Regions from separate parts of the Homo sapiens genome. Here region 1 is linked to region 2. Evidence: fine-mapped expression QTL. Tissue or cell type: whole blood. Region 2 holds a variant in brackets; the other region holds the start of a gene. All regions are shown on one strand. Distances are from middle to middle.

Region 1 (8,108 bases), 250 kb after region 2:
TAGGTATCAGGCTCCATGCTCATTTTTTCAAATGCACTTACCACCCCCAGCCCCCACCACAAAAGGAATAATTCAATTAGAATTTATTTAATAACAATCTAAACAATGCGGAAAAGAAATCCAAGTGCACATCTCACATGGTGCACAGGACACAACTCATCACATTATTTAATCATTCAGAAAATATTTTTTTTCCTTCAGCATTCTTTCTATGGATAGGATTGTTCTTCCGTTTGTTCAATGTACTTTTACTGAGAGCCAACTAGACCAGCATGCCTTAAAAACCTAAGGCTGTGAGCCACAAGCTGAAAGGGGCCCATTTCTGCCCATGATTTATCTAACTCATTTTGTGAACTGCAGTTAAAAACGTAATTTTTTTCCCCTACAAAGCCAGTATGAGAGTAAACACTGCTAAAAATTACTGCAAGTTGGCAAACAGAGAATATAATTTGTATTTAAATTATGTCATCGAAAGCAGGGAGATTAGTCATGATAATATTTCTATAACATGCAATATGTTTTTACAACGTAGCCAATTAAATAAGTTTTCAAGAGTTTTCATTAACAGATACAACCAGTAGGGGTCATTTTAGTGCAAAAATTGCAGCAAAAGAGACTTCAACATGAATAAAATATATTGATTCCTATTCATGTTAGTTATGATAACCATGCTTCACCACGTGAATTTCTGAATAAAAATGGAAACTGAGGGAAACACTGGCCATTCCGAAATTTCTTGTAAACTCACAGAAAAACAAGAGATAATCAATACCTTCTAGGTAACTGCTGACATCTGAAGGCTCCTCTAATTCTTTTTTTAAAAATGGCAGGCGGGGGGCGGTTGGGGTATCACTTATCCCATGCTTTCCATAAATCTTGTCGTTAAGTGAAAACACTGAAATTGTAAACACACGATTGAAAATATCTGTCTAAATCCAACCATTATATCATGCCAGGTAACACTGTCCTTACTTTGGTTTCACAGATTTAGAATGCAAGTTGACTGCTGTTTTCAGTATTTTTTTTTTTAAAGGAAGTGCCCTGGACACACAATATTGATAGTTGAAAACAGGCCTGTAAAATAAAAAGTGTTTCTAGAGAAACTAATTGAGATATAATCATGTCAACAAACCCTTCCAAGCATTTCAAAGCGAATACCAAGCACACAGGGTGTTGCCAGAAAAAAGGAAGCTATGAGGGATCACATCATTTCAGAGGAATGAAAGGCTCACGAAACTGCCAAAATAACTCTATACTGTGACATGGGATATTGCTGCCACAACACTCGATTACTGTAAATGTTCCCTGAGCACTTCCTTCACCAGAAACAGACTAAGAAGAAACAAAACAAGGGTTAGAATCTTCAGAACCTGCAAAAGTCCTTCTTGGAACACAGCAGTTTCCACTGCATTTAACTGTGTTTCATGTCGCCTGTTCTTTTCAGATTTACGAGAGGCCGGATTAAGTTATACACTTGAAGCGGCAGGGTTCAAAGATGCATCTTTTAGTCTAGGTCATTCAGAATTCCCAAAGTCAAAACACATACAATGGTATCAGAAGTTAATCTCATGGCCATTTTTCTTGAGGTAAGGCATAAAAACAAGTTATAAAAGGGGACAATACCAGGTGAGAGGCTTTTTTGTACTTCAGGCAAATGATCTCTTCTAACCCAATGTCTTACGTGTGCAGCAAAGCAAGAGCAAGTCCCTCCCCTCTGAGAAGAGTTCCCTTCACTCATCACTGCCCACTAGCTTCCAAACCAGAAAACCCTCCCCTATTTTCCTGAACTGTCCAAACCCCAAACTATTCAGGTATAAATAAGTACCTATGTGTGTGTCTGTGCGTATTTAGAGAGAATCACAGCACTGAAGCCTTTTAATAGGTCCATTGTTATCCTTAAGGCTGTCACCTCCTTTTTCAGTATCCCAGCATACTAAACAAACACACACAAAGATGCTTCGGAATAAACCGTTCCCTGGACGGTGCTGGCTGTGAGTAGTGAGGAAGGCACGCCGGGCAGAGGGCGCCTGTCCCTCCTCGCCGCCTCCCCAGAAACGAGGCTGCTGCGTGCGCTCTGCTCACTCGCCAGGATGCCCCCGGAACAGCATCATCAGCCCAACGTCAGCCAGAGCAGGGATCCCACTTTTAACTGATGCTTACCGAACCGTGCCCCCGTTAGCCACATCAAAATAACTCACTGCCTCGCTCTAGACCCCAAACCAGACCAGGCACCCTGAAGGCCGACGCAAGCGGGCAGGGATTAAAGCCAACACGCACTAACATTGGCTCCCCAACGAGAAAGACTCCACTAATCTAATCTGTTTCTCCCACCGTCAATCTCGACACCGCGGAGCACAATGCGTGCTGGAGAAGCCAGCAGAACAATCCCCGCTGTCAAACAAACAAAAAGGAGGAACCGGCAACACGACAGGAAACACGCGGGTATCTGATATTAAAAAGCAGCCACTAATAGCAACAACTTTTTACTCCCAGGTGCAACCCCCACCCCCCTTTCCTTTCAGGAGAGAAAGCCTTTGACCGTTTACAATGGGCAAATAAATGAGTAACCACCGTGTGTAACTTCCCCTGGGCTGACATATTCCGCGGCTGAAACTGATTTATCTGCGGAGGAGGAGGAAGGGGTGAAGGAAGAGCTCAAGGAAAAAATAATAAGAGTCACTCGGGGAGTGCGAGCTGGAGACACGTCTCCTCCGCCAACAGAAAAAGGACTTTCGCGGCCGGCGTGCGGCTCACGGTGCCACACTGCGCCAGTGCGGGGAGGGCGGTAGGGCCGGGCTCCCCGAGGGGCTCGCGCGCGGCAGAATCTGCAGTGCCCCCCGCCCGCGGCGCCCCCACCTCGGGGAGCAAGGCCGGGCCACCCAGTCCCAGCAGGAACGGCCACACGTGTGCGCGTCTGCGCGGGGACAGGGGCGATCCTCCACTCGCTCGCCCCCACCCACCATACCCAACCTCGCCCGCGACTGCCTAAGCGTCGGGGGGAACAAGGAGAGGGAACGCAGGGCCGCGGGGGCACTCTCCTGGGGGCGGCGGCCGCCCCTCTTCCCGCAGAGCCCTCTTTCCTCCAGAAAGTCTCGCCCAAACTTTGTTCGGCACAACCAGCGCCGAGGGGGCGGCGCAGGCCAGGTGGGAGGGGGCCCGCAGCGGGCGGCCGTACCTTCGCAAACGCCCGCTTCGTACTCGGTGAGGGAGTCGCCATTGAGCGGGGGGCGGATGACACAACGCAGCCCCCGGTCGCAGGTTCCGTAAATCCCGAAGGTGCCGCCGCAGCTCTCGTTCCTCTGGCTGGCGCACGTGTAGCAGCAGCCGCAGACGCCCTGCACGATGCTCCCCGGGCAGTTCCTGGGCTCCTCGCACTTGGACTCGTCACAGGGCAGGCAGACCAGCGCCCGGGTGCCGGAGCGCGCCAGCAGCAGCAGCAGCCCCAGCAGCGAGACCAGGAGGTGCCCGCAGCCGGCCAACCCCCTGTCCCCCGCCACCAAGTACATCCTCCTGCGCCGCCGCCGCCTCCTCCTCGCAGCCGGGCCGGGAGCGGGGCGGGCGCCCTCCCCTGCGCGGGGCACACGCGCCGCCGCCGCCGCACCAGCAGCCCGCGGTCCTCACCGCCCCTCTCGGGGCCCCCGGGGCGCGCCTCCCCTCGCGGGGCGAGGCCCCCGCCCCTTCTGCGGGCCGCGCCGACCCCGAGCCCACGAGCCTTGGCGCCGGCGGCAGCTTCCCCTCCTCCTCCTCCTCCTCCTCCCGGGAGGGAGGGGGAAAAAAGAAAAAAGTTTCCTCCCGGCAGCTCCGGTTCAACCCAAACTTCTGGCGCGGCGGCGGCGGTGGCTGCTGCGCTCGGCTCCAGCCCGGGCCGGCGGCGCCTCCTCCCTCTCCTCCTCCGAGTCGGCCGGCCCCGCAGCGGCGCAGCCTCCGGGCCGGTCCCCGCCTCCCGAGCTGCCGAGTGGGCGCGGTGGCGCAGCACAAGATCCGCGGCGTCCGCTCCGCGCGCCCCGCTCGCCTCACTCCTGCGCCGCTCCTCCGGGCGCTTGTTTATGGCTGGAGCCTCAGCCGCTCGGGCTGCGCCCTCCCCCATCCTACCTCCTCCCCCAGACCTTCCCCCCACCCCCACGCGCCGCGCGCCGCTCATTGGCTGCCCCCCCTCCCCGGCCCGGCCGGCCCCCTCCGCCTCCCCCTCCCCCTCTCGGGCGGCCGGGCCCTTCCTCCCTCCCTCACACGCCTCCACCTCTTCCCGATCTCCTCCTCCCCGAGCCCGGCGCACCGAGCCGGCCGTGCCACCGAGCTGCGGCTCTGGCCCCGGCGCCGCGGGTGCGCTGCGGATGGGCTTGGGGCGCACCCAGCGAGCAGCGAGAGTCGCGGTGTCCCGGGCGCTCGCTGGCACCGTGGCCGCAGCGGCCGGCCTGGGAGCCAGGAGGGCGAGGCGGCTGCACCTTCGGGGCCAGATTGGAGTTCGAAGAGTGGCGGGTACCCCAGAAGCTCGGGGCCGGGGCGATGGCTGCAGCCTCGGGAGGGTATCGCCGGATCGAACTCCGGGAAAGGGAAGCAAAGGCATGGAACCTCCGCACACTGGATGAGAATCCATCTTCCATTCGAGCTGGGAATAGACTTTGTGAAAGATATTATGTAATGGAGTCTCGGGAACCCTGAGACCTCTCCAGCGAAGCTGAAGTGAATTAATTAAGTGCTTTAAACGGTCTTGGTAAATATTCCGCGGGAGCTGGGGAGGACCGTTGGGATGGCTGTAGCTTGAGTTGAATTTTAACTGTCCTCATTCTGGGTTTTGTCGCTCTGCTTTCTGTGCCAAGGTGCTGTGTTACGGGAGAGAGTGACTGGAAAGTAACAAAGCTGAATCTTTCTCCCTGGAGTAAGGCCGAAGACTGGATTACTACACGCCTAGACGTGACACTACACCCATAGATCTCATGCATCATTAATGCCATATGACATTGCCATTTTCTTTCTCAGTTCACGGACAAAAGTGGTGGGTTTTCATTGTCTTCACTGATTGTCAATGCATTAATAAAGAAGATGTGTGGTACATAGTCTTTGTGATAAATCAGGTAAAGAAGCAACGGAAGTGATGCAAAATGCACGGTGTGGAGATGGTTTCTCTTCAGTGGTTGTCAGAAAAGGTTTTCGTAATGATGGCTCTGTCATTGATGGGATATGAAGTAGTAATCCGCTCCGTAGTGACCTACCATTCACAAGATGGGTACCAGGTGAATAACATTAATTAATTGACAAAAAGTGACTGTGGTCAATGGGGGAAAAAATCGATCCCGTGGCAGGTGTGACGTGGGAATGGCTGGCCCACCCTCTGATCCAAGATGGTCTGGCTGCAGGAAGGTGGCAGCCAAGTGGATTCTGAAAATCGTGACTAATGAACCGAAAGTTAATAGCTGGCAGTGCAAGGAAAGAGGAAACAAAGCTACCTTTGAAATGTTATGTTTGTGGAACAAATTCATACTTACGATAAATATTTTAGTTTAACCACTCTGTCTAATCCTGAACCCAAAAGCCAGAGTTACCAGTGGACTATTCCCCCATGATGGGCATCAGCAAACTAAACATTTCTCCTATCATATTTCTTTGTCCAAGGAGAGGAAGAGGCTCATTAATTATCATTGATTATTATAGGGCCATGAGGAAGATGTTCAACCGTGGAAAAGGGGAGAGAGCATTGCATTTTCTAGACGGGTTTAAAGAGTTGTTGCAATGAAATGATTCCTGTAGTTGGGTGGGAAGTCCGATTAGATGATCTCCAAAGGCCCTCATACCCTGTGGGTCCATAATAAGTGTTAAGTGGCAAAATCGTTTAAAATATGCTAGGTTTTCTATTAGAAAAACCGAAGAGACTGGGCGTGGTGGCTCATGCCTATAATCCCAGCACTTTGGGAGGCCAAGGTGGGCAGATCACTTGAGGTAAGGAATTCGAGACCAGCCTGGCCAACATGGTGAAACATGGTGAAACCCTGTCTCTATCAAAAATACAAAAATTAGCCGGGTGTGGTAGCGCATGCCTGTAATCCCAGCTACTCAGGAGGCTGAGGCAGGAGAATCACTTGAACCCAGGAGGTGAAGGTTGCAGTGAGCCGAGATTGCGTCATTGCACTCCAGCCTGGGCGACAGAGCAAGACTCTGTCTCAAAAACAAACAAACAAAAAAACTGAAGAAAAATAAAACACACATTGTTAAACATTGTTCTTTCTTGTCACCGAACAAGGCACCAGCACTTCAGTGTGGGATTTGCCAACAAACTGTCATCATTGCTCTGTGTTAAAAGGTCCCTCCCACTCTTGCAGAGGAGGTTATCTGTATTTCTGTTCAAATGCAAGTATAAAGACATTAAAATGTAGCAGATAACATTGTAGGACCTGCAGGAAAAGCCAAGGTCAGGTGATGAGAAAAAGGCAGAAGTGAGAAAGCTACTGTGGTTAGGAAAGAAGGAGGTAATAAGCATTGTCAAAGTTTAGCTTCTATTTATTTTTAAGGGGATATATTAAGGATTAAGGAAAGCTACAGATGAGCACAGGCAAAGGATAATTTGGAGATGACTATTCATTGTTCCTGGGACTTCAGAAGTAGAACCACCTGGAAGGTAGATGGACAGATACAACATGAGAAAGGTTGACTTCTCACAGGAATTCAAGTCAGGTTTAGAAAGGACTAGGGAGATTCTTTAAGATGAAGATGATTGTATCAGCTCAAAAAGAAAAAAAAAATCAAGTTACATTACACATGCCCTTTGGCATAAAATTAATAGTCATAGAAGCAATAGAGAAAATAGGATTCCTTGAAGCCAGTGACTAGTGGCGAATGAGAAACCTGCAAGGTCCTGGCAGCTTTTCTGAAACCAGTGTGTGAATCAGGAGCTCAGTTATGAAACAGCTCTTTCTTCTCTGGGATCCAGGAGGGATGATAATGAGGTAGTGAGAAGCTGAGGCAATGATACTGAGGCTCGAATACAAAAGTATTTTCTTATCTTCAAAGACCAGACTATGGTTACAGAAAGAGTTTGGGTGAGCCCAACATGATGACAATCAGGTGTCACGGGTGAAAGTGGACTAGGAAGAATTACCCTGAAATTGAATGGACCCTGAAAGTCATGAACGAATGTTAAGAATTAGAGCCACACATGAAAGGCCTCCCTTTCTGAGAAGCCTTCTTGAGCTTCTTTATCTGTTCTACAGCATTTGTAAGTACCTCTGCTTGTAGCATTTATCATGTTACATTATAGTTATTTAAATAACTCTGAACCCAATTAGCTTGTCAGCTTATTGGAGAGGGCAGGATTTATAAAAATGCATGCATGAATGAGTTGAAAAAGGGAGAGTGAAGAATTACAGTCAAAATGATATTTGAATATTATTGTCTGCAGCCCTTCTCTCTTGGTTTTAGTAAATACCTCAAAATCAGTACTTGAAAGGGATGGTATGGGCAGGAGGGAGTCATCGAAGTTTGGGGTGGGGGTGGTGGGGGGGTGGGGGAGGGGTTGGGGAACAGGTCTGCAACGAACCAGGAATTACGAAGTATTTCTGATGGAGGTCTAGAAGAAGAGATCGTCTGCCCTCTATTGGCCATCCTGGGGATTAATAAATTGTTGAAAATGTCGAAAATCAAAGTGCCCATTTGTTGGCCTAAGCAGAAAGTGGAAATGAGAGGGCAATAGACAGAATGTTAGTATTAGACCCCGCCTTTCCGATACAGTGTCTAGTCCACCTATAGTCACACTCTGTATTTTCTCTTCCTGAAATGAAAAGAAAAATGTAGAAGTTGCCTTTGAGTTTGGCTCACATACTCTTGGAATTGAGTTGCACTTTGTATTTTCTCTTCCTGAAATGAAAAGAAGAATGTAGAAGTTGCCTTTGAGTTTGACTCACATACTCTTGGAATTGAGTTGCACAAGAGAAGAAACCTCATTGTGTTATGAAAACGTTGCATACATATTAGAAAGTGGTACGAATAAACCAGGGTAGCAGGTCTGGCCCGTTTTACCCTCTTAGGCCATCTCTCTGGTCTCCTCAGCTGGGATCACCTATATATGGGTTCTCACTTAATCTAGGCTTGGCACTGCAGTGATATAGACAGACCCTAGT
Region 2 (8,108 bases):
GACCTCTTTCTCAGCACTGTCATCATGGGAAGCTCCCCAGCCTCATGCCTTCAGAGTTCTTTAGGCAAGAGTTTGCCTCAGTTTTTAACTTCCCATGTGTCTCCAAACTCCAGGGGACTTCAATCAGGATCTCCCAGGAACTCGCTCATGGTGTCCCACTCTGGGCTCACAGGGGCAGCAGTGTCCAGGTCCTTCATCTAAGTATCCAACCAGCTGGGGAGAAAGACACTGTTTATTGATCCTTCTTGCGAGATTGGCCCACACTCTGCTCCTCAGGAAGCCCTCACAATTGGCTTGAGTAGGAAGCACCCCAGGCCCTCCCTCCTAATCTGGCTGACAGTTCTGCATCTCAACGACTCGAATTCTTCTTTAGAATTTCTAGTTTTCTCACCTGTAGGTGGGTCATAGGGTAGGCAGAAAGCTCTGGTTCTGCTCTCACTAGTAAGTCACCCAGTTAACGGCCAGTTGCTGTTATTTCTAGGAGAGAGCAATATTCAAGACGACAAAGAAGCCAGAAGGAAGAACAGAATCATATCTGTCCCATCTCTGTGGAGACTCCCAGGAACCACTGGGATGACTATGGATGGTGTATCAGTCTGTGAGAGCTCCCATCACAAAATATCACAGACTGGACAGCTGAAGCAAAATAAATTCATGTCCTCACAGTTCCGGAGGCTAGAAGTCTAAGACGAAGGTGTCAGCTGGGTTGGTTTCTGCTGAGGCGTCTCTCCTCGGCCCGCACATGGTCGTCATCTCACTGTGTCCTCGCGTGGTCTCTCCTCTGTGTGAGTGCATCCATGCTGTTTTCTTATGTGTCCAAATTTCCTCTAGATACCAGTCAGACTGGATTAGGGCACACCCTTAACAAATTTTCTTTTCTCTCTTTTTTCTTTTTATTTTTAATTTGAGACAGTCTCACTCTGTCGCCCATGCCGGAGGGCAATGGTGTGATCTTGGCTCACTGCAACTTCCACCTCCTGGGTTCAAGTGATTCTCCTGCCTCAGCCTCGCGAGTAGCTGGGATTACAGGCTCAAGCCACCATGCCCAGCTAATATATATACATATACATATAATATTTTTAGTAGAGACAGCATTTCATCATGTTGGCCAGGCTGGTCTCAAACTCCTGACCTCAAGTGAGTGATCCGCCCGCCTCGGCCTCCCAAAGTGCAGGGATTATAGGGATTATAGGTGTGAGCCACTGTGTCTAGCCAAAAATTCTTCATTTTAACTCAATTACATCTATGAAGACTTTATCTCTAAATACAGTCATACTCTGAGGTGCTGGGGCTTACAGCTTCAACTATGGATTTTGAGGGGACACAGTTTAGCTCATAACAAAAGGAGAAGGCTGAGGCTGAGTTTAGCTGGCCCATCTGGGTAGATGCAGTCTGGAGAGCGCTTGCTGTCTCCCGTGCTCACTTACCCACAGACCTGCGTACATCAACAGCACAATGTAGGCACTTGGGGTACCAGGAGTCTTGCATTTCCATGGCTGGGGGTGAATGAGATACTGAAATTCAGGCACTGGTGGTAATTCAGTTCATCACAAATCCCAGTTTGGTGAGACTCACAGACATCCGGGGTATGCACTAATCCAGTTTTCCAAAGAGCAAATCAATCCTCCGGAGTTACAAAGTTACTGTCTCTGTCTTTGCAACATGGAATGAAACTAACATTTCTTTCTTTAAACAATAAGAACAAGGAATTAACAAATCTCCTATGCTAAACCCTTTAATACCAGATTAGAAACAACTAGCTTACTTTTATGTCTGCCCTAGTCAAATCAGGCAGAAAATTGAGCAATTACATGTCTGTTTGCTTAAATTATGTAAACAATTATCTTAATAGGCTACTTTGTTTTGTTTCTGTAGACCAACACCCATCTGACTTAAGTGGGATTTTTATTTAGCTACATAACATTTTGATTAAGCTATTTTGATGAGCAATATTGGTGCAGCTCTTTTGCTGTCAAGACATTTTGATCACACTTAAAAAGAGAAGAAAAAATCCTACTAAACTTACAGCTTAAAAAAATTAAAATGTTTAATGTAAAATAGACATCCTCACCTTTAGTCCCACTTCATCCCTACCTTGTTTACAATGAAGTTTTCCTTTTTTAAAGACAGGAAATTTTAATATGTTTGAATATAAAAACTTAGAGGAAAGAATACAAATGAAAAACAAAGACCTAAGAAAATAAAATTCCAAAGGAATAGGACAGTTTAACAGTCATCCTTTTTTTTTTTTTTTTTTTTTTTTTTTTTTGAGGTCAGTCTCGCTGTTGCCCAGACTGGAGTGCAGTGGTGTGATCTCTGCTCACTGCAACCTCTGCCTCCCGGGTTCAAATGATTCTTGTGCCTCAGCCTCCTGAGTAGCTGGGACTACAAGCATGAGCCATTATGCCCCGCTAATTTTTGTATTTTTAGTAGAGATGCGGTTTTGCCATGATTGACCAGGCTGGTCTCGAGCTCCAGGCCTCAAGTAATCCGCCTGCCTCGGTCTCCCAAAGTGCTGGATTACCGGCATGAGCTACTGCGCCTGGCCTAATGCTCATTCTTATACTACCCTTAGTGCAAATTTTGGCAGACTCATCTGGCTGATTTTGTGGAATATTGCTGGATAGTATGGTTCCCTTGCCCCAACACTTGAAACTAAGGAAAATTTGGGACAAGTACTCTTATAAGAAATTTATATTAATAAGTATGCCAGAAAATAAAACATAACGCTACCCAAATATAATTCAAGTCTCCTTGTTTCTTTTCAGCTGCAAATGCCTCTGAATTGTCTATGTCAATTTCTCTCTATAAACCTGTTGGTGCCTCTTTTGATGCCACCTAGTCTCCAGATGTGCCCTGTTACTCTATTACGGTGTCACCTACTGACAGTCACTGTGCTCATTGTAACTTTTTTCTGCTTTTTTTCTCACTGGTTTTCCCCCAATTCAGTGGGAAGTGGACTTATTCCTGTTTTCTTGAAGGTTCACAGCTTTTTCTCTTTTCTTCATCTTTTTTTTTTTTCTTTCCTGTACGGGCCAGAGAAAGATTTCCCATTTCCACTGATTTTTTTCTTCTTCTCAAATTAGTGCCTCAAATGCCTCCCTGAAAACTCAAGTCCACCAATGACAATAGTCTATTTTATTAATTTTGTATTACTTTCCAGTGAAGTTAATTTATATAACTGTAGTATAAAATACAGATTTCATCAAGAGGCAAAATAGGAGGGATGGTAAACAAATTATAATGTCAGATAAACAACTACTGCCAATGGTTGTTTCCATTTATTTTTAAGACACCAGCATTTGATTACTCAGAACACAAGCAGGCATGCACTTGGCAGTTTTCCCTACCCAGCTATTGAGGTGCCTTGTAAGGGTGCAGCCGTGGCCAGTCACCTTGGTTCCTTCTCTTGGAGCCTACTACTGCTTCTTCTCAAGGTGGTTTTGCCTGATCAGGACGCTGGCTTAATCATTAAAATGGAAGGTATGGCTGTTCACTGAAGATTTATCTCTATCGAACTTGAATGAACTGGAATGAAATATTCATTAATAAATTCTAGATTGTGGTCTTTGTCTCCTCAACAGTTTCTTGATTTTTGTGTTTTAAGAGACAGGGTCTTGCTTTGTCACCCAGGCTGAAGTGTAGTGGTGCCATCATAGCTCATTGTAATGAACTCCTGGGCTCAAGTGATCCTCCTGCCTCAGCCTCCCAAGTAATTTGGACTACAGGCACATGCCACTGTGTCTGGTTAATTTGATTTTTTTTTCTTACTGGAGAAAAAGTGAAGAGAAGCTGCTCTTTCCTTTTTGGCAAGCAAGCAACCTTTCCTTAAATTATTGGGTCACCATATAGATTTTTAAATTATTTTTACTTTTGTGTCATCAGCTGTTTTTTTTCTTCTAGTTATAAATGATATCAGCAATTACCTTAGATCTTCTCAATAAACTTTCATTTACATACATTCTCATTATTTTACTGTTGCTTTATAATGCCTCTGGCCTTTGCTAAATATGATACTTTAACAACCAGATATTTTTTGGTTTTCTATTCAACAGTGTCTTTTGCAGTTCTTATATTTTCTGACTGATTATACTTTTAGGTAGTGCTATGGTTTGAACGTGTCCCCTAAAGTTTATGTGTTGGAAACTTCATCCCCAATGCAACAGTTTTGAGAGATGGGACCTTTGAGAGGTGTTTGGATCACGGGGACAATGCCCTCATCAATGAATTAATAGCATTATCCCAGAAGTGGGTTAGTTATGGCAGAAGCAGATTTCTGATAAATGGATCAGTCTGACTTTCCTTCTCTCCCTGCTCTCTCACACTCTCTTGCCCTTCCACCTTCTGCCTTGAGATGACACAACATGAAAGCTCTCACCGGATGTCAGCACCATAATCTTGGACTTCCTCACCTCCAGAACTGTGAGAAATCAATTTCTTTATAAATTACTCAGTCTGTGGTATTCTGTTATAGCAACACAAAATGGGCCAAGACAGGTGACCTATATGTTGAATAACTTATTTTTAAATTTTTTGTCATATAAACTTCCACTCTGATATATATGCGCAAAATTTATGTACATTGTCAAACCAGAAAAGTAACCTTTTAAA[C/T]CTTAAATGATTAATATGCATATAATGCTCAAGTGCTATGAAGCTCTCTTTAAAAGTTCTTCTATATTCTCTTTCTAATTTTGAATCAAGGGCTGAAAATTAATTCAATAGGCTAGCTTTTCTTAATATATCAAGTGAGCAAGCATGTTTACACATGTTCATTTTCTTATGGCCTTCAGGAGTTGGTAGGAAATAAAAGGTCCAAAATAAATAGATTTTCGCGGACAAATTAGTAGAAGTAGGTTATGTGAGATATAACAAAGTGAAAGAACCTCTTCTTAATTGGAAGCTTTTGGGTATTGATGGACTGATCAAAACAGGTGAGGCTGGCAAGAAGCCTGTGGTTTTTCTAGATTTGTGGCAGTGTAGGAAGCTAGAATTTGGCTGATGGGTATGAGAGTTGCTGGGAAATGAGCTAAGCTTGCTGTCAGGAATTATTAAGAGAAGGGGTTTACAAAACAGTAACTTGGAGCCGGATTCTCTTAAAGAAGTCTGGGCCCAGTACCAAAGGAACTAAAGGAAAAGGCGGGGATAAGGGAATGGGGCCACGACCTGAGTGGAACATGGTCTCTCCTCCTGTAGGATGATCTGGAAGGCTGTGGAGCAACCTGAAGTCCCCAGATAAACATGGGAAGGAGAGATGTGTGGTAGGCACTGCAGAGAAACATTGCTACTTTATAATTTTATCTGGTTACAAACATTTAAACGGTTTAAATTTACAAGTATTTAAACAGTTTTCTGCTGTTACGTGTTTATGTTTACAGTTAACTATTTAAAATCTACCAAAGCACCAATTAACAATTTATTCCACTCTACAGTTTCTTTCTAATCTAATTGCTCTGTCCCTATGAAGTGGCAAAACTATAGAGAAATATAGTGTTTTCTCACAGACATATCTATTTGGAGCATTCTTATGGATAGCGTTGAGTGCCAAGGTTACCATGAGTGTGCAAACATAAGTTGACCAAGAAAAGTGATTTTCATCTTGTTTTCCCAAAGGGATATTCAAAATGCATAGGGTAATATCAAGTAATTTATATTTAATTAAAAGTAAAAAGCATCCTGTGTAAGAAATTTGACTAAAATAAAATTGTAATACCATTGGAGCTAAACCAGTGGCAATTTATTTAAGAACATCTGGAAATTTTGACAGTGCTACATTTGGGTTCTAAGAGCAATCATTTTCACTCATATGTGGACACATTATAACAGGTAAATGGAAATATGAGTCAAGAAAAATAAATGAATTTTATCTTAGCCATGTACATAATTTAGAGAGTCTGCATCAACTAGATAGTTTCCTCATAACTTTGTGTCTGTAGTCAAACACCTGGAGAAAAATAGCTCTTTGATACTTTGGAGCATCACTTTTGAGTAATGTTCAGATAGCTGAGTCAGAATGTTTTCTCATCAATCCAAAAGCTATTGTTCACTGTTGACTAATTAGTTCTAGCTCTTGGCTAACTGGGGATCAACATCCACTCCCTTTATGGTTTCAAAGGAAATAGGGAACAACATTTCTTTTAATTAAACAGTATCTTAGGGTTAATCACAGAACTATTTCATTTGATATGGGACAAATCACTAAAGTAAAACACAACATTTATTGGACTAGTAAACAAGAAAATGTTGGTATTAACATGTATTCATGAAAATGTGTTTCCATGCTGCCAAGAGATGGACAAAGCATATTGGGAAAAATTTATTCTCTATTACTAACTTCAGATTTATTTTTCAAACTATGAGCTCATCTTTCATCACCTAACCAGCTCCACCTTCTAAGTGAAGTATTTGATCATGCCAGTCCAGAGATGTCACTCTTCTCAACTCCTGAGCATTCGTTGCCTCTACACATTCGTATTTCCTTATGATAATATTTACTTTTTCCTCCCTTTAAAAAAATATTTTTTTGGCCAGGTACGGTGGCTTACGCCTGTAATCCCAGCACTTTGGGAGGCTGAGGCAGGCGGATCACGAGGTCAGGAGATCGAGACCATCCTGGCTAACGCGGTGAAACCCCGTCTCCAGTAAAAATACAAGAAATTAGCCGGGCGTGGTGGCGGGCGCCTGTAGTCTCAGCTACTTGGGAGGCTGAGATTATAGGCGTGTGCCATCATGTTTGGCTAGTTTCATGCGCGTCCGTGTGAAGAGACCACCAAACAGGCTTTGTGTGAGCAACACGGCTGTTTATTTCACCTGGATGCAGGTGGGCTGAGTCCGAAAAGAGAGTCAGCAAAGGGAGATGGATTATCATTAGTTCTTATAGGTTTTGGGTCAGGCGGTGAAGTTAAGAGCAATGTTTTGCGGGCAGGGGTGGATCTCACAAAGTACATTCTCAAGGGTGGGGAGAATTACAAAGAACCTTCTTAAGGGTGGGGGAGATTACAAAGTACATTGATCAGTTAGGGTGGGGCAGGAACAAATCACAATGGCGGAATGTCATCAGTTAAGGCTATTTTTACTTCTTTTGTGGATCTTCAGTTACTTCGGGCCATCTGGGTGTATACGTGCAAGTCACAGGGGATGCGATGGCTTGGCTTGGGCTCAGAGGCCTGACATTCCTGCCTTCTTATATTAATAAGAAAAATAAAACAAAATAGTGTTGAAGTGTTGGGGCAGCGAAAATTTTGGGGGGGTGGTATGGAGAGAGAATGGGCGATGTTTCTCAGGGCTGCTTCAAGTGGGATTAGGGGTGGCGTGGGAACCTAGAGTGGGAGAGATTAAGCTGAAGGGAGGTCTTGTGGTAAGGGGTGGTATTGTGGGGATGTAAGAAGAAACATTTGTCATATAGAATGATTGGTGATGGGCTGGATACGGTTTTGTATGAATTGAGAAACTAAATGGAATAAGAGAAGGAGAAAAACAGGTATAAAAGGTCTAAGAATTGGGAGGGCCTAGGACATCTGATTAGAGAGTGCCTAAGGAGATTCAGCATAGTCCTGCCAGCAAAGATTATTTATTTACTTCAAGAGTTTAGAGTGGCAGTTTGGGGATAGCACCAGGAGATATCAGCTGTGATGGCTTGGAGAAACAGCGTAAACCGGCAGTGTAAACAAGAGCAGGGCATGTATGAGTAGTTGAGAACGGTGAATAGGAGTATGACTAGACAAAAGATAGTACGGATGACAAGTTTTTTTGGGGCACAGTCTAAGTTGGTCTGGTGTCGAATGAGACTGGGGCCTAATAAAAAGGAGTGTCTATACAGGAGCTTAAATGGGCTGTGCCCTGTAGCATTTTGAGGACAGGTCTGACTTCTGAGAAGCGAAAGTGGTAAAAGTATTGTCCAGTCCTTTTTAAGTTGGTGGCTGAGCTTGGTGAGGTGTGTTTTTAAAAGACCTTTTGTCCATTCTAATTTTCTTGAAGACAGAGGACCATAAGGGATATAAAGATTTCACTGAATACTAAGAGCCTGAAAAACTGCTTGGCTAATTTGACTAATAAAGGCTAGTCTGTTATCAGACTGTATAGAGGTGGGAAGGCTAAACTGAGGAATTATG

The links. PIP is the estimated chance that this variant, and not a neighbour inherited with it, causes the effect.
Region 1: CRIM1 starts here. The variant in region 2 is fine-mapped to the expression of CRIM1 in whole blood (INTERVAL, PIP 0.90).

The regions. Positions count from the first base shown.
Region 1 is chr2:36,351,691-36,359,798 of GRCh38, reverse strand. CRIM1 (cysteine rich transmembrane BMP regulator 1) reads right to left here and starts at 4,021. Exons shown (of 17, transcript NM_016441.3): 1 at 3,176-4,021. The coding sequence starts at 3,506. CRIM1-DT (CRIM1 divergent transcript) reads left to right here and starts at 4,229. Exons shown (of 2, transcript NR_037631.1): 1 at 4,229-4,711; 2 at 4,818-5,050.
Region 2 is chr2:36,603,394-36,611,501 of GRCh38, reverse strand. No RefSeq gene overlaps it. Among named protein-coding and RNA genes, the nearest start is that of FEZ2, 9.3 kb to the right of the region's middle. The variant C/T (reference allele first, on the strand shown) is at 4,612.